Linked DNA regions of Homo sapiens: all the other regions are linked to region 1. Evidence: fine-mapped expression QTL. A gene starts in region 1. Each other region holds a variant in brackets. All regions are shown on one strand. Distances are from middle to middle. Region 1 holds the start of ATG4B (autophagy related 4B cysteine peptidase). Region 2 overlaps ATG4B (autophagy related 4B cysteine peptidase). Region 3 has its middle 5.3 kb from the start of DTYMK.

The links.
Region 2: its variant is fine-mapped to the expression of ATG4B in whole blood (TOPMed, PIP above 0.99).
Region 3: its variant is fine-mapped to the expression of ATG4B in whole blood (INTERVAL, PIP above 0.99).

The regions. Positions count from the first base shown.
Region 1 is chr2:241,634,169-241,642,345 of GRCh38, reverse strand. It overlaps ATG4B (autophagy related 4B cysteine peptidase), which reads right to left and starts at 4,653. Exons shown (of 13, transcript NM_013325.5): 1 at 4,622-4,653. The coding sequence starts at 4,631. It overlaps THAP4 (THAP domain containing 4), which reads left to right and starts at 5,188. Exons shown (of 6, transcript NM_015963.6): 1 at 5,188-5,405. The coding sequence starts at 5,329. RefSeq lists enhancers at 3,172-3,705, 4,105-5,032 and silencers at 4,196-4,335, 4,376-4,565, 4,586-4,635, 5,006-5,355, 5,386-5,455 and 1 more.
Region 2 is chr2:241,666,299-241,674,475 of GRCh38, reverse strand. ATG4B (autophagy related 4B cysteine peptidase) reads right to left here. Exons shown (of 13, transcript NM_013325.5): 8 at 7,638-7,831; 9 at 6,255-6,333; 10 at 5,791-5,936; 11 at 3,694-3,750; 12 at 3,071-3,164; 13 at 619-2,285. The coding sequence ends at 2,212. Among named protein-coding and RNA genes, the nearest start is that of DTYMK, 16 kb to the left of the region's middle. RefSeq lists enhancers at 5,291-5,790, 5,791-6,292. The variant T/C (reference allele first, on the strand shown) is at 4,907.
Region 3 is chr2:241,688,025-241,696,201 of GRCh38, reverse strand. It overlaps a transcript of ING5 not described here. Among named protein-coding and RNA genes, the nearest start is that of DTYMK, 5.3 kb to the right of the region's middle. The variant C/T (reference allele first, on the strand shown) is at 4,630.

The DNA of each region.
Region 1 (8,177 bases):
AAAACAGAGAAAGAGAGAAAGGAACTCCAAATTTAGCTACATCAGAAAGCTAGAAAACACTGTTTCAGTGCACACACTGGGCAGATTGCGCACATTAAAACCCACTCCCCTAGATCGCGCCCACCGCACTCCAGCCTGGGAAACAGAGCAAGACTCCATCTCAAGAAAAAAAAAAAAACCACTCCCCAGCAGCCTCTGCATTCATTACATGTTATGCTAACATACTGGATTTATGTTAAACTCTACAAACTGAAAGCTTTGATAGTAGGGGAATGTGTAGGTTATTATTAATTCAAGTTCTGTTTTTTTTTTATTACCAACCACATGCCAGACACAAGTGATGCACTAGAAATGCAAGCACAAGACACCAGCTCTGTCCTCAAGGAATGGGCAGTGTGGCTATTTAAGTGCTGGCACCTGCCAGTCGTCTGAATGGGGAGCATGCTTTTAGGGACAGTGCTAGGGACTGGTGGAGAACACAGCCACACTGTGGTCTGCCTGCCACCTCCTGGACCTCTCCACACCCGCAGAGGCCTTTGGCCTCTTTTCTTTCCCACCCACATTCACACCCTGGGTGACCTCATCTGATGTGACCTCCAGTCTATCTCCAGCCCAGGCTTATTCTTTTAGCTCCAAACCTGTAGACCCAAAAGCCCACTGGACACTGCTCTACAAGGATGTCTAACATCCACCTCACATTCAACACACATAAATCCAAACTCGCAACAGAAAGCTTCCCACCAGACAGGACCTCCCCAAGTCTTCCCCATCTGAGTTTCTTTTTTTTTTTTTTTTTGAGACAGAGTCTCGCTCTGTCGCCCAGGCTGGAGTGCAGTGGCGCAGTCTTGGCTCACTGCAAGCTCCGCCTCCCGGGTTCACGCCATTCTCCTGCCTCAGCCTCCTGCGTAGCTGGGATCACAGGCGCCCGCCACTATGCCCGGCTAATTTTTTGTATTTTTAGTAGCGACGGGGTTTCACCGTGTTAGCCAGGATGGTCTCGATCTCCTGACCTTGTGATCCGCCCACCTCGGCCTCTCAAAGTGCTGGGATTACAGGCGTGAGCCACCACGCCCGCCCCCCTCCATCTGAGTTGCTTAGCTCAGGCCATACACTATGGGGCCATCTTTAACTCCTCCCTCTCTACCCATCCCTCTCCCAACTTCCAATCTACAAACAAATTCTATTGTCTCAACCTCCAAAACACATGCAGAAGTCAACCTCTTACCCACCCTGAGCTAATCCACTGGCATCTCCTTGCTGGCTTGTTCAACAGTCTCTTAGCTGGTCTCGCTGCCTCTGCCCTTGCCCCTCTGCAGTACATTCTCAAAAGAGATGCCAGAGCAAGCCTGTTGAACACAGTCTATCATGTGACTCCTCCTCTAGAATGAAACCTTCCAAACGGCTGCCATCCTGTTCAGAATAAACACTGAGTCCTCACTATGAGCTGCCATCCTGTTCAGAATAAACACCGAGTCCTCACTATGAGCTGGCAAGGCCCCACTACACTGAGCCTAAGTCACCTTTCTATCCTCAGCTCCTGCTTCTCCCACCGCCACCCGCTGCACCTGAGCCACACCAGGCTCTTGCTACCTGCCCTTCCTCCTACACTGCTTTAAGTCTTCGTCAAAACTTAAACCTTCAGAGTGAGACCCTTCCTGGCCATCCTGGCTACAATTCCAATCCTCCTCATCCTTGGCCCAAATCACCATCCCCCAGGAGCCACGCACTTCGCTGCTAATGCTGGTCTCATGTCTAGAACGTTAGCTACCCCAGGGCAATGGTTTTCATCTATGTTGTTACTTCTCTAGTCCTAGTGTCTAGAACAATGCCTAACACATATCTGACAGTCAGTAACAAACAGTGTATTGAATTAATGACTATCAGAACAGAAACTGTATTACACATGGTCAAGGAAGGCAGAATCTTCAAGAACTCTAGAGATCAAAGGAGGGCAGATCATTAATCATCTCTGAAAGGAAATACAGCATCAAGTCAGAAGGAAAATTCCCCATGATATCCTACAAACATCATATACGTTTTTATCAGCATAAACAGAGACCTTTAAATGCAAACACCTTTTCTACTCTGATCCCACATGCAGCAACATCCAGTGTCCTATTAAAGTATCACCATGTCAACACAGTTGTCAAGGGAAAATAAAAGATAAAATAAAGTATCGCCATGTAACAACATAACTGTTCTCCCAACTTGAACATGATGATTTTCACATTTTAGGTCATATGATCGACACTGAACCGTGTTTTTGACCTTAGCCAAGTCTCTCATATGATACTCCAGCCTCAAGGTATCGAAATGATAGAGGCAGGAGGCAGACAAATCCTAGGCAGAGAGGGGTGGGTCACCAGTGAAACCCAACCTTCAAGCCACAGTTTAAAGCCTGAAAGCCAAGCGACGAGTCTCGGATAAATCCACAGACTGGATTGCGAACCTCTCTTCCTGTTTGGTGCGCTTTCCTCTAATTAATCCCCACCCTTCACCTATTTTACATATACCTACTTTTCTCTAATTGGTTTATTACACTGTTGTGCCCACCTTTGAGTAGTGACTTTGTTTTAACCTTTTTTGCATACTCACAGACAAATCAGCACACACTCCCCATTCTGAGCCTATAAAAGCCCTGGACCCAGCCACACCAAGGGAGACCACCCGACTTTGGGTGGAAGACCACCCTTGAGTCCCCTCTCTGCTGAGGGGTGTTTCATCACTCAATAAAACTATTCTCCACCCTCCTCACCCTTCGATTGTCAGTGTTAAGTGTAGTCTCATTCTTCTTGGACGTGGGACAAGAACTAGGGACCCAATGAATGCAAGTACAAAGAAGGCTGTAACACTGTGGCCCTGGGCCCTCTGCCGGCAAAGGGCAGCCACCCACTGTGACACCCCACGTGACAGGAGGCAGCAAAGGGAAGCAGCGGGGACGGAGCCAGCCCCAGAGCTATAGCCTGGAGCAGGGCAATGGGAGTAACAGGGCTGCTGACACTCTGCAACACCCCCTCTTGGGCTTCAGGGTTGTAAGCACCCCTGCTTGGGCGCCACTACCTTCCCCTTGTCTGGACACCAGAATCCACTGTCCCTTTGTCTGGACGCTGGAGTCCGCCGTGGGAGTTGCTTGCCACATGTCTAGCTGTAAGCTCTGCAGAGCCCACTCTGGTGCCTGCGCTTGAAACAGCTGGCGGGACCCGGCACTCACTCACCCACACACCCACTCCCGCCAGGGGCTGAGCATACAGTCATGGTGGCCATGGTATCCGTGCCATAGTGCAAACCAGGTGCCCACCGGTGGACCAAGTAGATGGGGTATCTCCTGCGGCGAGCCTGGACCCAAGCAAGGCCTGGGCAGGGGCCTCGCCAGCCGGAGGTCTCTGGCTGCCAGAGTGGCTGAGAAAAATCCTGCATCACAAACAATAACACCTAAAAAGATATAATACAACAGTTGTAAAATAGTAAACAACAAATAGTACACAGCTGCAAATAGTTCAACCGTGAATGACGGTTATTCTAAAAGACAAACTTCACAAGATATACACCTGGTCAACATGCTCCTTAGGGAGTCAGGGCTCCTGTTTCCTCCAGCCACCTACCACATTTAAGTGGTGAGCTGCTACAAATCATTTTAATAGATATTGGCAATACACATTACAGTTTTCCAACTCAGATCTTAATAAATTTATGTTGTAGCTACCAGAAAAATAAAAAGTAAAAACAATCCCATTCAGAATGACAGAATTAAACCAGATGAAAATCTTTCTTTACAGATGGGGGATACTTGGTAAAAGGCAAATCAGTTCCCACAAAGAATGAATGAGCTAAAACTTCTGTGTAAAAATATTTCTAGGGCTACTGGGCTAGCGATGGGTTTGGCGCTGACTTAAAATAATCTTGCTAGCAAAAATGGAGCGGAAGCATGAAAGGATAGGAAAAAAACCAACACTCCCTATACACACACACACACACTCCTTCTCTTTCTCTCTCTCTTAGGACCCCAAGAAACTAAGACCCGATGATACAAATTCACTGTTTCTCTTTCTCGTCACGGAAAAGCAGCTTGGAGAATCTACTGGTTACTAAATTGAAGACAAAAACAAAAAAGATACGTATACTGTGATGAACACGTCACGTTTCTCTCCTCCAACCTACCAATAACTTCATAAAAGTTAAAGAGCTTCCATCCCTTCACGCTCAGCTGCGGAAAGGCTACGCTTTCGCCCGCCGCTCGCGTCCCCGGCCCGGACCGCGGCCGCCCCGTTCGCCGCCGCGCCTCTCCCCGCCCGGCAGGCTCCGCCGCCCTCCACGGCCGACCTGGCGCAAGGGCCTGTGCAGCCACAACCTCCGGAGCGCTCCGGACGGGACCGGAAAAGCAGAAGCTCCAGCGCAACCGACGGCGGGTTCCGCGGCGCAGTGCGCCGCCGTCCCCCTCCCGCTCCCACCGCCCACCACCCACCAACACCGCCCCGCGCTCCCGCAGCGCCCGCCGCCCCGGCCCAGCCTGGCCCGCACCGGCGTGCCCCGAGGCGAGTCGCGGCAGCCCGACCCGAGCAGGGGAGGCCAATGATAAGGCGAGCACCTCCTGCGGAAAGACCGACCCCCGGCAACTCCTCACCTGCGTCCATCTTCCCAGTCCGGCCGCCGACTGACCCGAGCGGCGTCGCTCCGACGGGCCAGCAACGCGACGCGGCGACGGGACGCCGCGGGGGCCAATAGGTGTGCCGGCGCAGGCGGCGAAGACGATACGGCGCGCGAGCGGAAATACGCGGGAGCCGCCATTTTGGCGTACGGCCGGGCCGACGCGAGCCCCGGGGCGCCCTGCGGGCGGCATGGGGTCGTGTCGTGGGACGACGGCTGGTTCTGCTGTCCGACGGGACACTGTGTGCCATGGGTGGCGCTTCCTCCTCTTAGAGGACCCAGGAGCAGTTGTCGAGGCGGCAGAGGCGAGCTCTGTCCCCGTCCGAGCAGCCATCTTGCGGTACGGACGTGCTCGGCGCGCCCATGTCGCGGTACGGACTTGCCCCGCCGGGGCGACTCCCCCGCCCGTCTGCCCGCCTGCCGACGGACGCTGCGAGGGGCCTGCGGCGCCCCGCTGGTCCGAAGACGCCCGAACCCGCGGCTGGCGAGGACGCGGGCGGGGGCTGGGGCGGGGGCGGGCCCGCTGCGGGCGCCTGCGCCTCCATCTTGCCGTACGGCGCGGACGCCGCGGGCCGGCCCACGTCCCGAGCCGTGTCGCCGCCGCGCTCCCTCCCTCGGGGCGGTCCGCGGGCGGGCGGGCGGCTAGGGCCGGGGCCTGGCTGCGCGGCTGGGCCAAGGCCCGCGATGGTGATCTGCTGTGCGGCCGTGAACTGCTCCAACCGGCAGGGAAAGGGCGAGAAGCGCGCCGTCTCCTTCCACAGGTACGCGGGCCCCGGGCCGCCACGCCCCCGCCCCGACCCGGCCCTGCGGGGAAACTGAGGCCCCGCGGCCGGCCCGAACGCGGGGGGCGGGGGCGCCGGGCCTCGGCGGCCGGGGCGCGGGGGAGCGGGCGTGGGCGCTGTGTGACCTTGGCCCGGCCGCCGTCTCTGGGCCGGGCGCCTCGGGCAGCGCAGCCGCCCCCACCCCGGCCGCCTGGGTCCGCCCTGCGCGCGATCGATCCGGCCGGCGCCTAGGCTTCAGAAGCCGCACGCTCTGGAAGCGCAGGTCCTGGGCCGATTGTCCTGCTCGGCCGCGACTGCTGACTCTCCGGACCGCGCGGGCCGTCGGCCTGGATGTCTGCGAGCAGGAGCGACCGGGCAGACGCGACCTGCGCCTCCGTAGCTGACAGCCCCCGAGAGGGCTTTCCGGGACTGGGCCCCCGAGCCCAGGACGCGGGTACGCGCGGAGAGTCTACGGGACGGCCGGCTGGGGACGGCATCCTCCTGCGCTCCCTTAGAGCCTGGCCCGGGGCTCTCGGCCGCTTCCCACGTGGGCCCCCGCGGCAGGGCCCAAACCCCTCTAAGGCCTTGTGAGTTCAGCCTATTTCAGTGAGATTTCTGCGGATTACACGCGGGAGGCACCAGAACCGCGAACAGACTTTAAAAACCACTTTGGAGATGTTTCTGTTTTATGTTGCATGGTGTTATTTAAGTTTTAAAGACGGGAATGGCACGTGTTATTTATAGGGTTATTGAAAGTTCACAGTAGTTTGCTGTAAGTCTTAAATCATTACAATGTATTATAAGAATTAGTAACATTAGATTATTTCACAAGTCAGCCAGCGCACTTTCTTGACAATTTCCTTCAGAGCTTGTGTCCTAGAAGTTTTGTTATTGTTTTTTGAAAACGAGGCAACGTGTTGCAACGGTCTAACATGGTATGGGAGGAAAGGACATCGGAATTGGGGGTGGGGGGGTACCTTTGCAGTTGGCCTCACAGTGTTCAGAAAGGAGGTTAGAAGGTCCTGTTGCTTAGAACGGCCCAGTCCATCCTGTTAGGATTTGTCCTGGTCCACACTGGCCTCAGGTGGAGCAAATAGCAGTTAGAACTGACCACCCTGTCCCTTATGTGCACATTAGGGCCTGGTTTTTTTTTCTTTTTTTCTCTTTTTTTTGAGAAGGAGTCTCCCTCTGTCGCCCAGGCTGGAGTGCATTGGTGCGATCTCGGCTCACTGCAACCCCCGCTCCTGGGTTCAAGCTATTCTCCTGCTTCAGCCTCCCAAGTAGCTGGGATTACAGGCAAGCGCCACCACGCCTGTCTAATTTTTTTGTATTTTTAGTAGAGACAGGGTTTCACCATATTGGCCAGGCTGGTCTCGAACTCTGGCCTCAAAGTCCTGACCTCAAGTGATCCACCCGCCTCGGCCTCCCAAAGTGCTGGGATTACAGGCATAAGCCACCCCGCCCGGCCCAGGCCTATGTTCTTAAACACAGAGTTTGCCTTAATGAAGAAATGGTTATGAAGGATCTTTATTAGGTAATAAAGAAATGACTAAACATCCTATTCAGTATCTTCCTGCGCTGGTTGCTTTTTTCTCACCATTTTTAAATTATGGTATAATACATGTAACATGAAATTTACCATCCTAACTTTTTTTGGAGACAGAGTCCCACTCTGTCACCCAGGCTGGAGTGCAATGGTATGACCGTAGCTCACTGCAGCCTCAGCCTCCTGGACCCAAGTGGTCCTCCCATCTCAGCCTCCAGAGTAGCTGGGATCACAGGCATGAGCCACGGCTCCCAGCCTTTCCTACCGCTTTTTCAGTGTACAATTCATGGCAACAAATACATTCACGTTGTTGTGCAGCTGTCACTACCATCCACCTCCAGAATTATTTTTATTTTGTAAAGCGGAATCTCTGGACTCATTAAACATTAATACCCCAGTCCTCCTCTCCCTAGGCTCTGGGAACCCGCATTCTCCTGTCTCTATGAATTTGATTACTCTGAGTACCTCATGTGAGTGGTATCATGCAGTGTTTGTTTTTTTGCACCTGCCCTATTTCATTCAGTATAATGTCCTCAAGGATCATCTGAGTTGGTTGATTTTTTTTGAGGGGAGAAGACCGGGTTTCACTCTGTTCCCCAGGATGGGGAGCAGTGGTGCAGTCTTAGCTCACTGTAACTTCGAATTTCTGGGCTCAAAGAACCCTCAAGCCTCAGGCTCCCAAGTAACTGGAACTGCAGGTGAGCACCATTGTGCCCTGTCCCTGGGCTGGTTGACTTTTAAAAGGAGCATTTTTACTCCTGGAGGTGGGCATGCAACAGGAACACAGAACTGTAGCTCTGGAGTCTTCTGGAGGTCTCCAGATTCTCAGCTGCTTGCGCACAGCCAGGGCTGCCTCCATGCAGTCCTGACCTCTCACGCCCTAGTGTCTGTGGATGCTGGCCCTGGTTTTGGTACCCAGAGTCCTACCTTCCAGGCAAGTTGGGAGGGTTGGTTAGCAGTCAGCTTCTAGGAGCTATTTCCTGCTGTCCTGAGGCCATCCTGGCACTGTCTGTCAGCATCCTGTGTCCCCATTGGGCATTTACCACAGCCTGGGGAGCAGTTGGTTACCTTCTTTCCCATCCGCCCTACAGACTATAAGCTCTGTATGGGTAGACAACGGGTCTTTCAGATTTCTACTCCAGTAATAACTGCAGGTAGAAGATGTTCTTTAAATCTTTTTGAAGTATTTTTTTAAGTGGATGAAGTCAATACGGCTTAGGGTGCGT
Region 2 (8,177 bases), 32 kb before region 1:
GGAAGAGGCTGTGCTGTTCCAGGCACTGAATGTGATCATCTTTTAGAGCAGCCACAAGAAGCGAATACGAGCATCGGAGAGGCCACAAGTCCTCAGCCACCTCACCGGGGACCCAGCAGGGCCCCCTCCGATCTGGCTTTGGGCCCTTCACACCTATACCAGGGCTGCCCACAGGGATGCACTGGCCAGAGTGAGCAATGTCCTCACCAAGCCCCCTGCTGTGCCCCAGGCATGGCCTCCCACAGGCCAGGACAGTCACTGCGCACTTGGGGAAGGCTTTGCTATGATTCAAATCGAGGCAAACCCTGCAACTCCAGGCACTTCCTGTGACTTCCTCCTGCTGAAGATGGGAACCGCCATTTTACTTTCCTAAAATCCTATTTTCCTTGCACTTTTTCCTTCTAGGGTTGTATGAGGTGGCTGATGCCACGGCTGGTAGAGAGCCAGGCTGCAGGCAGGACAGGCCCCCTGCCAGGGCTGGGGACACACCTGCTCAGGGCCCCACAGCCCGCCACGCAGGCAGCCACATCCTTTACGTGTGAACGGGCTGAAACATTCACTTATTTTTTTTCTGGAACTCACATTCAATTAGAACTTAAGGAAAAAATAGACACAAGGTTTGTTTTCTACTGAAACTTATTATTTGCCATTAAGAATTGCAAACTATACTACTAAGAATGAACAACATTCTCTTCATTAAGCCTTTTTCAAAACACACGAGACAAAGCTCCCCTTTGGTCAAGGTGTCCCACACATTACCACTGCAGCTCCCAGCACAGCGGCGCACCATGAACTCGGACGTGGAGCCCAAGGAATGGAGATCGCACCAGCCTTCCCTGCTTCCCCACCCCAACTACACCCAAGGGAGAAAGGATACGAGGAAATACACTATGTCTTCAATGCTTGGGGGGCTGGGGGTGTCCTCTGCTACCAGGTGGGCCGGTCAGTGCCGACTGTCCGGCGCGCGTCCTCGGGGATCTCTGGCTCCCCGACCTACACAAGCAGCAGCAGCAGCAGCGAGTCCTGCCAACGCCGCAGTAGCTGCTCATGAGAAAAGTGCCCACGCTCCCCAAGCCCTCCTGTTTACATTTCCTAGTGGGGCAAAGATACTTTCCCAGGACAGGCAGCAGAGCAGCGGGGCAGAGTGCACTCTGGGACCCGGGACAGCAGGTTACACAGGGTCAGGCGGTGGTGGGTGCTGGAATCGGGGCTGAGGTTCTGGAAATGCCACCAGGTGATGCCACCCTGTGGTGTCTGCCCACCACACACCACAAGACTCAAGTGGTTTTCCCCTTTTGGCCCTAAACCACCTAACACCTCAGCGGCATGGGAGGGCAATTCTCAGCAAGGCAAGGACATGGGGAAGGCTCCTGGGAGAGGCACGCCGTCCACCCTCAAGCCTGGCTGTCACAGGTGGAGGCCCCGCCCCCCCCCCGTCACCACACCTGGGGAAGCTGCCACAGAATGCCACAGCACTGGAAAGGGACACTCTGAGGGCAGGCTCCAGCAGCAGCTCCAGGACAGCCAGCCGCCCTTCTGCCCAGGCCGCCCACGCTGTGTCCTGTGCACGCCATCTTCAGGTTTCCCACACACCCACTTCCTGAATACTTTTCTCCCCAAAGCAAGGAGGAACCTCGCCTTCGTTCCTCCAACCTCATCTCCCACTGAGGTAGCCCTTGGTAAGCCAGGCTGGGCAGAGAGGACACAGCGGTGGGCGCGCCCCCCTCGAGAGCAGCCCAGTCCTTGGGCGTGGGGCCGCAGTGTGGCTGCCGCTCCTCTCACGCCAGCCTGCACAGGTCTTCTGAGACTCTGACTCAGGGAGCGCCCAGAAATTCATGTCTGTGTCTGACAACTTCAAACAGGACTTTAATTCCAAACCAACCACAGAACCGGCGCCTGGGAGCAAGTGGGACTGAGGCCCAGGTGCTAACACGGGGCTGGCAGTGTCGAGAGAACACTCTGGAAGCTCCTAACAGACGGCTCCGCGTGCGGATGCACAGGCCCTGACGGGCACTCTGAGCTGGGCAGTCTGACACCAAGCAGTAAGGCCTCCCGGGCAGCGCAGCCTCAGTCCACGAGCACAGCGGGTGGCCCTCTGGGGGGAGGCAGCACGGGGCGCAGCCCTCGGCAGGCGAGCGGGCGGGATGGATGAAACGCAGCGGCACCAGGAGCCCCAGGCTCTCACAGGTGCCACCCCCGACCCCAGGATTTTCAAAGGGACAGGATTTCAAAGTCTTCATCTTCTGAGTCGAAGAATCTTTCCAGTCGCTCTACATCAGAAGAATCTAGAAGGAACAGGACATAGCGCATCAGGCATCTTGGGTGGGCCACCTGGGTGTGAGTCAAGGGCCCTTGGCGTGGGGCAGACTGAGCAGTGCCTGCTCTGCAGCCCACAGACAGCTGTCCCCATGCGGGTGTGAACAGGTCCGGGGGTTGTGCAGACCTGCGAATATGGGGGGAGGGAGCAGAGAAGAGGAGCAGGGCAGGGTGAGGAGGGCAGGGGGCGGCCGGCACAATCTCAGGCCTGAGGGGCCTCTGTCCCGCGTCTGACCCTCGTGGTCATCAGGAGTGGTTCCATTGCCATTGCCTTGTTTGTAGAGTTTCCCACAGGGAGACAGAGATGAGGAGGACGCGCTCACGGCCACTCACTTCACTGCACGAGCCCAGGCCGGCTCCTGCGGCACGCTGGCCATGGTCCGAGGGGTCTACGCCACCCATGGCCAGTGGTGCCCAAGTGAACCAGTCCCCCACCCAGGACTGCGTCACCACAGAGCCTGCATGTTCTGTCTGCTCCAGACCCCTGAGGACTCCATGGTAGCACGCCCAGCTCCACAGCGCCCGGGCAGGCAGCGCTGGTGGGGAAGACGAGGTGGGTCCTGGGCTGCTGGGCGCAAGCTTGGAGGAGGGGACGCTCCACTCCATACCTGGTCTCACAGGCGAACCACTGCCAAGTGCTCACGGCTCAGGCTCACACACACCTTAATGGTCAAAACCAAGGGGGCCAGGACTGGGGAAGCAAGGGCACAGATCGTACCTCCGAGGGACCCCACCTGGACTTGGCAGCTCTCACCTAGGGACAGGTTCAGGACGTCGGGGCAGGCCAGATGTGAAGGCTGCAGCTCCACCAGCTCAAACATGGGCAGGGCACCTCCAAGCAGAGACAGCTGTTAGTGAGACATGGCCGTTAGGTGCAGCCTCACCCCAGTGCTTGCTGCGGCCAAGAGAAAGGGGCCAGCCGGCCACAGCCAGCGGACAAACCTGTCATCCCATCTCACTGATGAGAAAACAGAGGCAGCTCCACACTAAAGGCTACACGAGAACCCAGTGTGGTGATCAACACACAGCACAGTCTGACCACCACGGCAGAGGGGGGTGGGCCACACGCACTCGGCCGGCGTAGCTCAGCACCCCATCACCACCCCCATCTCAACAGGAGACGGATGAGGACACTGGAAATCCCATTCTAAAGTCAACACGCAACATCCGTCCCCAGGGTTGTTAACTGTGTTGCCAGATGGGCAATCCAGGACGCCCCACCCTGCTCAGCTACATAGCTGTGCCAGGCGGGACAAAGCTCCCCACGGCCCAGTGAGGCTGCCTGAGACCTGGACGCAGGCCTTCGACCCCTGCACGCCCCACTGCCTGTCTCCCTGGGTGGCTCAGCTCGGCTGTGGGTGTGGGGCGGCTACAAACCTTTTTGACTTGCTGGCACCAATCATTGAAGTCATCTTCAGTCTTACAGAAAAACCCCTAAAACGAAATGACGATGAGCAGAACACGACACCCCCATCTGCAGTCGGCTAAGAGGTGGGGGCTTCCATTCCCACTGCCAGTGGCGCAGCAGAGGCCCCCAGCATGCAGGTGCTGGACATTCCAGCCTGCCTTGGCTCCTGTGGCCAGGAACGGAGCTCCGAGGGTGCCCTGTGCATGGTCCCCTGCACCAGTGCCCGGCTCCCCTCAGGCTCCACTGCGTTGCTGTGCCTTGATTCGCCCACGAGATGTTACGTGGTGTGCATCTCTCAAACCTCACCGAGTGTTCCGGGATTGGGGCAGGTTATGAGTTAGGGCCAAGTGGGGAGCTCTTCTCTCTGTGACTGTGAGGCAGGGCCGCTGGGTCTCAGCCTTCGCCCAGCAGCTCCCTGGAAGCTTGGCGGCAAAGGCCACCGAGAACTGCCCAAGGACACCGTGACACAGGGAGCCTCCTGCTGAGGAGCCAGGAGACAGGGGACCGGCCAAGGGTCACCGGCAATCACATCCTTAAAGCTGCCGCCTGTAATGACAGTCACTAGGAATTCTCAACGCTGCCAGATGCGCAGATGTTAACACAAAAAGAAACGAAATGGGGGGAGAAGCTCAAACTGGGCACTCTCTTCCCCTGAAGACACCATTCTGCCGCCTCGGCGCTGGTGTAGGAGCACTCTCCCCCGGGGACAGGGGACATTCCTCCTCCTCACGGGTGAGGACAGTTATCCCACCAGGTGGCCCCTTTGGTCTCAACTCAACGTTCACGCGTCCACTCCTCTGTCTGCGGTGGCTGGCTCTCTAGCCTGACCTGACTGTTAGAGTGCCAATCACTGTAAGCCACCAAGCTGCGTTTACAGTAACAAACATACCTAATTCTAGTTCGACGAGGAATTCGTGACTAGGTTCTGGTAAGAAGTGTGCGCCAGGCTGCGCGCAGTGGCTCACGCCTGTAATCCCAGCACTTTGGGAGGCCGAGGTGGGTGGATCATGAGGTCAGGAGATCAAGACCATCCTGGCTAACACAGTGAAAACCCGTCTCTATTAAAAATACAGAAAATTAGCCAGGCGTGGTGGCGGGTGCCTGTAGTCCCAGCTAATCCAGAGGCTGAGGCAGGAGAATGGCGTGAACCTGGGAGGCGGAGCTTGCAGTGAGCCGAGATCG[T/C]GCCACTGCACTCCAGCCTGGGCGACAGAGTGAGACTCCGTCTCAAAAACAAACAAACAAACAAAAAGTGTGAGCCACAGAGCTCCAGCCCATGTTCCCCACTACTGCCACCCTGCCCAGGAGGTGCATGGAGCGTGGTGTGCACTCTGGGGCTGCGCCACAGCTCAGAGACCGTCCCATTTCAGGCCCAGATCTGCCTTCTTCCTCCTAAATGGGGCGGAGCATCCACAACAGAGCCCCCGATTCGGTTAACTGCTTCCCTGAGCATGTCACCGTCATTCATGATTTCTAGGGGGGTTTTTTGGCCTCTTTCCCCATCAAATATATTTGAGGGCAGGCAGGTCTGCATAAATCACACACCAAAAATCACAACTAGGTAATCAAAATGGAAAAACAGGGAAGCTCCTTCTTAGGAAATCCCCCAGAGAGGTCAAGTCAGAGCCTCCGGAAAACAAAAGGTGGTGCAGGAGTGGGTGGGTGGAGGGGCCGCCCGTGTTTAAATGTGGGTGTGACGAAGGTGGTGCAGGGGTGGGTGGAGGGGCCGCCCGTGTGTTTAAATGTAGGTGTGAGGGGGACACACTCACCATGGCTCACACTCATCCATGCACACTCAGCACGCGCCCACACACGCTCACATCCAGACACACGCTCTCTGGGCCACTCGAAGGCCATGAAGGCTGCACAGGAGGTGGTGCCTGGGGGAGGGACGTGAGGGTGCAAGGACACAGTTCCGGCTCTTATACCCTTCAGATTCCCAACCACGTGAACACAGTACTTATCCCAACATGCTGAAAAAAAAAACGCAAAAATCCGAAAGTTTTCCTCGTCATTCCCAAACAGCATTCAGCACCAAATGCCTGTGTGCTCAGGTGGCCGCCACGTACCACAGCGATGGACGGGTCAAGCTCCGCGATGCTCATGCGGCACGGCGGGTGCTGGCAGTGGAAGCTCTCGTCCGGGATGAAGCAGCCATCAGTGGGCTCCACGGCTGGCTGCGTGGTGTGGGGGTCCAGGTAGATGAGCTCCTCACCTGGGAGGATGAGGCAGGTGGGCAGGTGGGTGGCCGAGCCGGCAGAGGAAAGGGACAGAGGAGGCCGCATTTCAGACCCACTGCACCCACATCACACTGAGAAGCAGTGGGCAGGAGGTGGGGAGGGAGCCGAGGGCACCAGACCATCAGGGAAAGGGGCACACAGGAGGCCGCCCGCGACCAGGCTGAAAATGAACCCCAGGGCATGCTGCTTTTCCACCAGTGGCCTCAAGTGGTCACCTGGGGTGTGGTACCTGCTCATGGAATGCCCTTAAAAGGCCCAGGCCCACAGGGACACGGTGGGAACCCTGGACTCACCAACGTAGCCGATGAAGTAGTGGGCGCTGTTGGGCTTCCCTCCGATGACGCCCAGGGACTGGGGCATCATGAAGCAGTGCTGTGGAGGGGCGGGGGACTGAGCACAGGTCCCAGGTGGGAGCAGACGGTCCCCCCACCCACTGCCATAGGGGGCCCAAGGGCCTGCTGAGGCCCAACTGGGTGACACAAGAGGGGACAGGAGGGGACATGGTACCAAAGAGCTTACTGTCCAGGAAAGACCACAGGACATCCCACAGGCACAAGAAACCCAATCTGCAGGCTCAGCTCAGGGAAGCTTCATGTCAGAGGTGGGCTTTGGGGAGGCCGGGAGTGAGGGGGCCTGGCAGGAGATGTGAGCAGGGGTGCGGGAGGTGGCCCTGCTGAGTGCTTTGACCTGACAGGGCAGAAGCGATGGAGACGGGGCCTATGTGTGGGGGCAGCTGAGACCCCACAGGATGGGCAGAAGGCTGGACGGAGGGGCCAAGTTCAGACAACTGAATAATTTTAACAGGAAGCCACATTTCAGTTCCATACAAATGTGACTCCTTGGTCTAAAATTTGAGTTACCTGAAGAAAGGATGGTTTTCCCTTCTGCTTGCTTTTTTTTTTTTTTTATTTGAGATGGAGTCTCACTCTGTCACCCAGGATGGAGTGCAATGGCATGATCTCGGGTCACTGCAAGCTCCGCCTCCTGGGTTCAAGAGATTCTCCTGCCTCAGCCTCCTGTGTAGCTGGGACTACAGGCGCGCACCACCATGCCCGGCTAATTTTTATATTTTTAGTAGAGACAGGGTTTCACCATGTTGGCCAGGCTGGTCTCAGACTCCTGACCTCGTGATCTGCCCGCTTTGCCCTCCCAAAGTGCTGGGATTACAGTCATGAGCCACCGCTCCCCGCCCCCTTTTGCTTTCATGACATGGGGGAGCCTGTGGCTGGAGCTCCTCACACAGCCCTGCCCATCCCCAGGCCCTGCCCACACGTCCCTTCCTCACAGGCCAACCCACCCTCCGAAGGGACCTCAGGCCAAGAGGGCTGTGGGGGAGTGGGGTGGGCATGCCTGGGGCACAGTGGAGACCCGGGAGGGGGCGGGGCTCCCCGTCAGGCCGAGGAGTGGCACCTGGTTCCAAGGACCCCCTGCAAGCGCCTCATGCTTTCATCCTCGACACTCGCCTTGACACTTGCAGAACGAAAGCAGCACGTGCCTACTGATGGACGTGCCTCACGCCCACTCACCCCTTGGGCAACGGTGTAAACCAGGGTTGTTTACCCCTCCCCCGAGAGCCGGCTGCACAAATGGCCACGTGACGACGATGCGCTGAAAGTGACTAAGAACTGGGAGAAGGGGACGGGGACTCAGGGCAAGCGCCGCACGGCAGGACCCACCTTCAGCGTCTCCACGTAGGCCTCGTTGATGTCCGTGAGCCCCAGGCGCAGGGGAATGAGAAGTACCAGGGGTCTCCATGGCGACGGCCTGTTGGTGACCTCAGCTCCGGCAGGGAATCCGTTGCAGTGCCGGTCGGAATCTGCAGGAAACGCAGTGGCGCCTGCACAGGGAACGCTGGTCCTGCACAACCTTCCTAGAAAGGGAGACATGCTTTCACTAACCAAGCAGACCTGTGCAAAAGTGCTCCCACAACAAGCAAGCAAATGATGACTGTGTAACAGAAAAAGGGCGGTACAAAGCCAGGTGCTTACAGTGAAATTCAAACTTGGAAAATATAGAAAAGCGTAAGAAAATTTTTTCATAATCTTGCCACCCAGAGAAAAAAGAAATAGTTTCTATGCATACTTAATTCAAGAGTTTTATTGTGAAATAAAGCACACACACGAAACAGTGCAAGAAAAAGCCACGTGCACTTGAGAGGAAAATCACAGAAGTACCCACGCAGCCTGCCAGCCTGGCTAGTGCCAGCACAGCCAGAA
Region 3 (8,177 bases), 54 kb before region 1:
GCCAGGCTGGTCTCGAACTCCTCACCTCGTGATCTGCCCGCCTCGGCCTTCCAAAGTGGTGGGATTACAGGCATGAGACACCGAGCCCAGCCTGTTTTGTTTTTTGAGACAGGATCTCACATTGTCGCCCAGGCTGGAGGACAGTGGTGTGATCACAGTTCACTGCAGCTTGACCTCCTGGGCTCAAGCAATCTTCTTGCCTTGGCCTCCGCAAATGCTGGGACTATAGGTATAAGCTGCCGCACCCAGCCTGTCTTACATTTTTAGCTGAATACTCCTTGTGAGCATCTGGCCCTGCTTTACTCACCCTGCTTTGTCCCACTGACTAGATCTATTTCATTGTAGTGGTGTATCAGACTTTAACAAACTCTTTACAGATGTTCCCAATATTTCAGTATCATAAATCATGCTGTAATGAACATGGCTATACATAGAACTGCAAGTATCTGTTCCCATTATGTATCACCGCCTTACAGACCCCTGAAAACTTAGTGGTTTAAAAGAACCATTTTTTTTTAGACGGAATCTTGCTCTGTCACCCAGGCTGGAGTGTGGTGGCGCGATCTCAGCTCACTGCAACCTCCACCTCCTGGGTTCAAGCAATTCTGCTGCCTCAGCCTCCTGAGTAGGTGGGACTACAGGCGCGTGCCATCATGCCTAGCTAATTTTTGTATTTTTAGTAGAGATGGGCTTTCACCAAATTGGCCAAGCTGGTCTTGAACTCCTGACCTTGTGATCCACCCACCTTGGCCTCCCAAAGTGCTGGGATTACAGGCGTGAGCCACCGTGCCGCCAAGAACTATTTTGTTATATGTGACAGCGTGCCAGGAATTTCAGCAGCTCCACCAGGTGACTGTCCTGTCCAGTGTGACAGAAAAGAGATCACTGGGGTGGCTGGAAGGCTGATGTCAGCTGGCACCGTGGGCCAGAACACCCACATGTGGCCTCTCCAGCACAGCAGTCTCAGTAGCAGCGGGTCTCACAGAGTCCCAGGAGGCTGGGGTGGAAGCCACCGGCTCTTGTGACCTCACTTTGGTAGCCCTAAGACATCACCTCACTACATTCTATTGGTCAAGCAAGTCACTGGGGCCGACCCAGGTTGAATGGGAGAAACATTATACCCACAACTAACAGTGGGAGGAGGAGCAAGAATACCACATTGTCTTACCAGTCCTTTTTTTTTGAGACGGAGTCTTGCTCTGTCGCAAGGCTGGAGTGCGGTGGCGCAATCTCGGCTCACTGCAATCTCCTCCTCCTGGGTTCAAGCGATTCTCCTGCCTCAGCCTCCCAAGTAGCTGGGACTACAGGCGCCCGCCACCAAGCCCTACCAATTTTTTTTGTATTTTTAGTAGAGACCGGTTTTCACTATGTTGGCCAGGCTGGTCTCGAACTCCTGACCTCATCATCCACTCGCCTCGGCCTCCCAAAGTGCTAGAATTACAGTGTGAGCCACCATGCCTGGCCGAGTATTGCACATTTTAAGTGCTGATACTTATAAATGAATTGCCCAAAGGGAAGGTTATACCAACCAGCATGGCCACTGGTTGCTTTCCATACTTCTGCCAACCCTAGATTTCATCAGGCTTTTTAAATGTTTAACCTTCGCTAACTCATTAGAGGGGGGAAAAAGCCAACCTTAAATATTTTAATCACATTTATTTCATTTTAAGTGAAGCTAAACTTTTTTTTAACATATTTGTTGCCTATTTGTGGTTCTGTCCTTTTCTCCTTTATATCTTTTACTGATTCTTTTTTTTTTGAGATGGAGTCTCGCTCTGTCGCCCAGGCTGGAGTGCAGTGGTGTGATCTTGGCTCACTGCAAGCTCTGCCTCCCAGGTTCATGCCATTCTCCTGCCTCAGCCTCCCGAAAAGCTGGGACTACAGGCGCCCGCCACCACGCCGGGCTAATTTTTTGTATTTTTAGTAGAGATGGGGTTTCACCATGTTAGCCAGGATGGTCTCGATCTGCTGACCTTGTGATCCGCCCGCCTCGGTCTCCCAAAGTGCTGGGATTACAGGCGTGAGCCACCGCGCCTGGCCATCTTTTAGTGATTCTCTGTGTAGAAACTGGTCTTCATGTATTTTGTCTAAAAAAAAAAAATCTTTATTATTAAGGGTTATTGGCCCTCACATATCATATATTAAATATAACTCTCCCAGAGATCAATTTGTCTTCTTTCATTCACACACACAAAACTGGCAAACCCTTTTGAAGGGACCCTGTTTTAGAAACTGCCAGAGAGGGCCAGGCGCGGTGGCTCATGCCTGTAATCCCAGCAATTTAGGAGGCCAAGGCGGGTGGATCACCTGAGGTCAGGAGTTCGAGACCAGCCTGGCCAACATGGTGAAACACCCCGTCTCTACTAAAAATACAAAATTAGCCAGGCATGGTGGTGGGTGCCTGTAATCCCAGCTACTCGGGAGGCTGAGGCAGGAGAATTGCTTGAACCTGGGAGGTGGAGGTTGCAGTTAGCCGAGACTGCGCCATTGCACTCCAGCCTGGGCGACAGAGCAAGACTCAGTCTCAAAAAAAAAAAAAAAAAAAAAAAGAGTTGTATTTCTCAGTGCAACAACTCTAATGTGAACAGGCGGGACAGCACACTCCATGGGGCCTCTCAGGGACCCACATTCCTTCTTGTATGGTGTCTGTCCACAAAGGGCCTTGCCATCGTCTGCCTGGTCAAGGCTGGGTTGCAACAAGGGGTATGTCGGAGAGCGTAGGGGATGCAAGCCTGCTGTGTGAAGGTCCACATGCCACATCTACCTGCAAGGAGGGTTGGGAGTTTAGCAGAGCAGTGAGTACCAGCACAACTCGAAGCTCCTGGGAGCAGGTGAGGACATGGACTGAACTGTGTCCCTCAAAATTCCTGTGTTGAAGCCCTGACCCCCAACGTGACTGTTTGTAGATAGGGCCCTTAAGGAGCTTTGCTTTTTTTTTTTTTTTTTTTTGAGACAGTCTCGCCCTGTCGCCCAGGCTGGAGTGCAATAGGGCGATCTCAGCTGCAACCTCCGCCTCCTGGGTTCAAGCAATTCTCCTGCCTCAGCCTCCTGAGTAGCTGGGATTACAGGCGCCCGTCACCACACCCAGCTAATTTGTGTATATTTAGTAGAGACGGGGTTTCACCACGTTGGCCAGGCTGGTCTCGAGCTCCTGATCTCGTGATCTGCCCGCCTCTGCCTCCCAAAGTGCTGAGATTACAGGCGTGAGCCAACGCACCTGGCCAAGGAGCTAATTAAGGTTAAATGAAGTCCTAATGTGATAGGACCAACAGTTTTCATGTGTCTGCTGCACAGTTAACAGACCCATGATGCTCAGACAGCAGGGTTTGCAGCAGAGAAAGAGTTTAACAAGGCCCAGGTGAGGAGGTGAAAGGAGACGTCTCCTCAAATACATCTCCCTCAGGAGTTCTGAGCTAAGGTTTTTAAGGGGATCATGGAAGGTGAGGGGCTGGAAAATGGGGGTCGCTGACTGGCCAGGGTAAGGAGGATGATTCACTAGAATGTGGAAACTGCATTCCTTGCTGAGTCAGCTCCTGTGGGGTCCTTCAGAGCAGCTGGCATCAGTACTTTCACTGGTATGCAGGGCCTGAAAGAATCTCAGGCTGGGCGTGGTGGCTCATGCCTGCAATCCCAGGGCTTCAGGAGGCCGAGGCAGGATGACCGCTTGGGCCCACCAGTTCAAGACCAGCCTGGGCAACAGGGCAAGACCCCGTCAGTATTTAAAAAAAAAAAAAAGCCAGATGTGTGTGCCTGTAGTTCCAGATACTTCAGATGCTGAGGCAGGAGGATCACTCGAGACCAGAACCTCAAGGCTGCAGTGAGCTACGATTGTGCCACTGCACTTCAGCCTGAACAAGAGTGAGACCCTGTCTCTAAAAAGAAAAAAAAATTAAAATAAAAAAAAAATCTCAAAGGGAAAAGTTAAGGTTTCATAATGTTCAAGTTGTTATCTCTGGAGCAGTTAAGGGTAACTGTAATCTTATAACAAGAGTCTACCTGATTCTGAGGCACGAGGCGCCAGCTCAGAGGGGCTCACCACATGACTGGTGCTGCGTGTGCTGCAAGCTCGGTTATTCCATTTCCCCCTCCCCTCTTCCTTGATTAATTTTGTGTTTTTAGTGACGGTTTTCTTTTTTTATATTTTTTTAAAAATTGAGACAAGGTCTCACTCTGTCACCTGGGCTGGAGTGCAGTGGCGCAACCATGGCTCACTGCAGCCTCAACCTCCTAGGCTCAAGTGATCCTCCCACCTCAGCTTCCCAAGTAGCTGGGACTATAGGCACGCCCACCTATTTATTTTGTAGAGATAAATAAATCTACAAATAAGTCTATGTTGCCCAGGCTGGTCTCAAACTCCTGAGCTCAAGCAATCTACCTGCCTCCCAAAGTGCTGGGATTGTAGGTGTGAGCCACCATGCCTGGCCAGGGATGGTTTCAATAAGGGTGCAACCCTAATCCGATAGGGCTGGTACCCTCATGAGAAAAGGAAGAGGTACCAGAGCATTCTCTTTGCTATGTGCAACTCTAAAAGACAGCCCGTACCAGGCAGCAATCTGTCGGGCACCTTAATCTTGGACTTCCAGCCAATAAATGCCTATTGCTTCAGTTCCCCAGTCTAAGGTAGTCTGT[C/T]GTGACAGCCCCAGCCCACTGACGGTGAGAGACTTTATTCCCTGCGTGGTGGAAGTTGCAGCACACTAAGAAACAGGGACTAGCAAAAGAGCTTTCCTGCTCCTTCAGTTTTTTTGTTTTTGTTTTTTTTTTTTGAGACAGTGTCTCACTCTGTCACCCAGGCTGCAGTGCAGTGGCATGATCTCAGCTCACTGCAACCTCCACCTCCCAGGTTCAAGTGATTCTCCTGTCTCAACCTCCCAAGTAGCTGGGATTACAGGCATGTGCCACCACACCCAGCTAATTTTTGTATTTTTAGTAGAGACGGTGTTTCACCATGTTGTCTAGGCTGGTCTTGAACTCCTGACCTCAAATGATTCACCCACCTCGGCCTCCCAAAGTGCTGGGATTACAGGTGTCAGCCACAACACCCAGGTCCTTTTTTTTAAATGGAAAATCTCAAACACAAGAAAGCAGATAACCTGGCTGGGTGCGCTGGCTCACGCCTGTAATCCCAGCGCTTTGGGAGGCTGAGGCAGGTGGACTCACCTGAGGTCAGGAGTTCAAGACCAGCCTGGCCAACATGGTGAAATCCTGTCTCTACTAAAAATACAAAAAATTAGCCGGGTGTTGTGGCGGGCGCCTGTAAATCCCAGCTACTTGGGAGGCTGAGGCAGGAGAATCGTCTGAACCTAGGAGGTGGATGTTGCAGCGAGCTGAGATCACACCACTGGACTCCAGCCTGGGTAACAGACCGAGGCTGTCTGGGAAAAAAAGAAAAAAAAAAAAAGCAAGCAGAGAACCTAATGAACCCACGAACCCATGTGTTCACCTGCATCTTTCTGCAATTATCAGCCTGTGGCCAACTCCATTTCACCTGTATCTCTGACCACACAGACCCAGCATCCCACCATTTCCCCTATAAAGTGGATGTACTCACCTATCAGGCCTCCAGAGTCTCGTGGAGTGACTCTTGCTCCCATTGCTCCTGGACAGACAGTGCTGGAAATCAGGCCTGAGGCTGTCAGTGGCAGTACGAAGGACACTGGATGCTCAGCCACGCAGACCCTCCTATGCCCACGCCAGGGCTGAGGTCAGCAGGCTGGGGTGTGGCAGTCATCCTTTGATCACGCAGGAACACCAAGAGAACTGCTAGGATGTGGACCAACCTGATGTCACTGAGTCACGGGAGCAGCTCCTGCCTGCCTAACACTGGACTTCATGTAATGTCAGATGATTAAATATCTTAATGCTGTGAGCCACAGGAGGCTGGCTGGTATTCTGCTACCTGTGCTAAAAGGTATCCTAAGAGAGGTACACCATGCTGGAATAGGCAAAAGCAAACCTGTTTCTTGTATCTTAGTAACACACTTCAAGGTGCTTATGTGCTTGAGCAATTCCTGCAGTCAAATGGGCCCTCCACCCCCCAGTACACAAGGCCCAGCCAGCCAGATTCCCTCCATCTTCACCCTCCTCCCCCGTCCCAGGGGAGCCAGGAAAGCCATGCATCCACCAAGGCGGATGCGCTGTGTCCCTCTGCATCAGCCTGCTGAGTCCTCCTGGACCTGATGAGAGACAGTACCGCAGCCTTGCCCAGCCCCGGGAAGGTGGTCTTCCTTCCTACAATCCCCTTCATCCTCTGGAAGGTGGTCTTCCTTCCTACAATCCCCTTCATCCTCTGGAAGGTGGTCTTCCTTACTACAATCCCCTTCATCCTCTGGAAGGTGGTCTTCCTTACTACAATCCCCTTCATCCTCTGGAAGGCAACAAGATGGAATTTTATAAGGAGACATCAATCAGAAAAAAGGATATTACTTTTATTACTTATCTATGTAAGGGAATAGTAAGTACTATTCTTAGTACTTGTAAGCGTTCGCTAGGTTGTGCTGTGGTAACAAAGGATCCCGAAGTCTCAGTGACTCGAAATCACGATGGTTTACTTCTTGCTGGTGCTGCCCATCAGCTACAACGGCTGTACTTCATGGGCCTTTGTTACAGGATCTGGGGTGAAAAACCAGCCCTCACTGTGCACATGCTGTGTTCATGCTGGGGGCAGAAGGGGAGGGACCAAACCACAAAACACCCTTTAAAGCTTCTGCCTGAACAGGGCACATGACAGCAGACTACTTTACATTACCATTTGGAAGTCTCACCACTAAGCTTGACGTAAAGGAAGAAAGGGTAGGCCAGGTGCAGTGGTTCACGTCTGTAATCCCAGCACTTAGGGAGGCTGACGTGGGCGGATCACCCGAGGTCAGGAATTTGAGACCGGCCTGGCAAACATGGTGAAAACCCATCTCTACTAATACAAAAATTAGCTGGGCGTGGTGGCAGGTGCCTGTAATCTCAGCTACTTGGGAGGTTGATGCAGGAGAATAGGTTGAACCCGGGAAGTGGAGGTTGCAGTGAGCCAAGATCATGCCATTGCACTCCACTCTGGGCCACAAGACAGAAACTCCGTCTCAAAAAAAAAATTAAATTAAAAAATAAATTGGCCGGGCGCAGTGGCTCACGCCTGTAATCTCAGCACTTTGGGAGGCTGAGATGGGCGGATCATGAGGTCAGGAGATCGAGACCATCCTGGCTAACACGGTGAAACCCCGTCTCTACTAAAAAATACAAAAAAAATTAGCCGGGCATGATGGTGGGCACCTGTAGTCCCAGCTAGTGGGGAGGCTGAGGCAGGAGAATGGGATGAACTCGGGAGGTGGAGCTTGCAGTGAGCCAAGATTGCGCCACTGCACTCCAGCCTGGGCAACAGAGCAAGACTCCATCTCAAAAAAATAAAATAAAAATACAAAAATTAGCCGGGCGTGGTGGTGGGCGCCTGTAATCCCAGCTACTCAGGAGGCTGAGGCAGGAGAATAGCTTGAACCCGGGAGGTGGAGGGTGCAGTGAGCTGAGATCGCGCCACTGCACTCCAGCCTGGGGGACAGAGCAGGACTCCGTCTCAAATAAAATAAAAGCAATAAAAGTAAATTAAAAAGGAAGAAAGGGCATAACTGGTAATAACAATATAACCCATATCCTTCCAGAACCCCAAACTGAATTGGGGAGGCTTCAGTCTGGAAAACATAAAGCTACTCTAGGTATGCAATGATAATATAATCGCGAGCTTACACAAATGCTGGGAGTAAAGTCCGGGAAATTGTTGCCAATGACCTCAGCCCAAAGCACTGAAGTGGGTGGTGGTCTCAAGAGCTCATGGGGAAAAAACCAATGCAAACTCAACACTTAGAAAGCTACCAGCAATTTCTTGGTCTACATCAGAGGCAGGTGGTTCTGAAAACAGAACAGCTTTGAATTTCATCTATATTTCTGGCTGAGGGTGCCTCCCAAGAATAATCGCCTCGAAAGGTAAGAGTGCCTCGTCTGGTAGACTGTAATCCAGGGCTACACAGATGATTCTGGGAAATGCAGTTCCTACCATTTCTTCTGCTAAGCAGAGAAAGTGATGTCTAGCTGACAACTGACAATATGGCACATATAGATAGTAGTATTTTAGATATCTAAAATAACAAAAAGTCTCACCTGAGAAATGTCCAGGCAGCCTGATATCCCTAAGATAA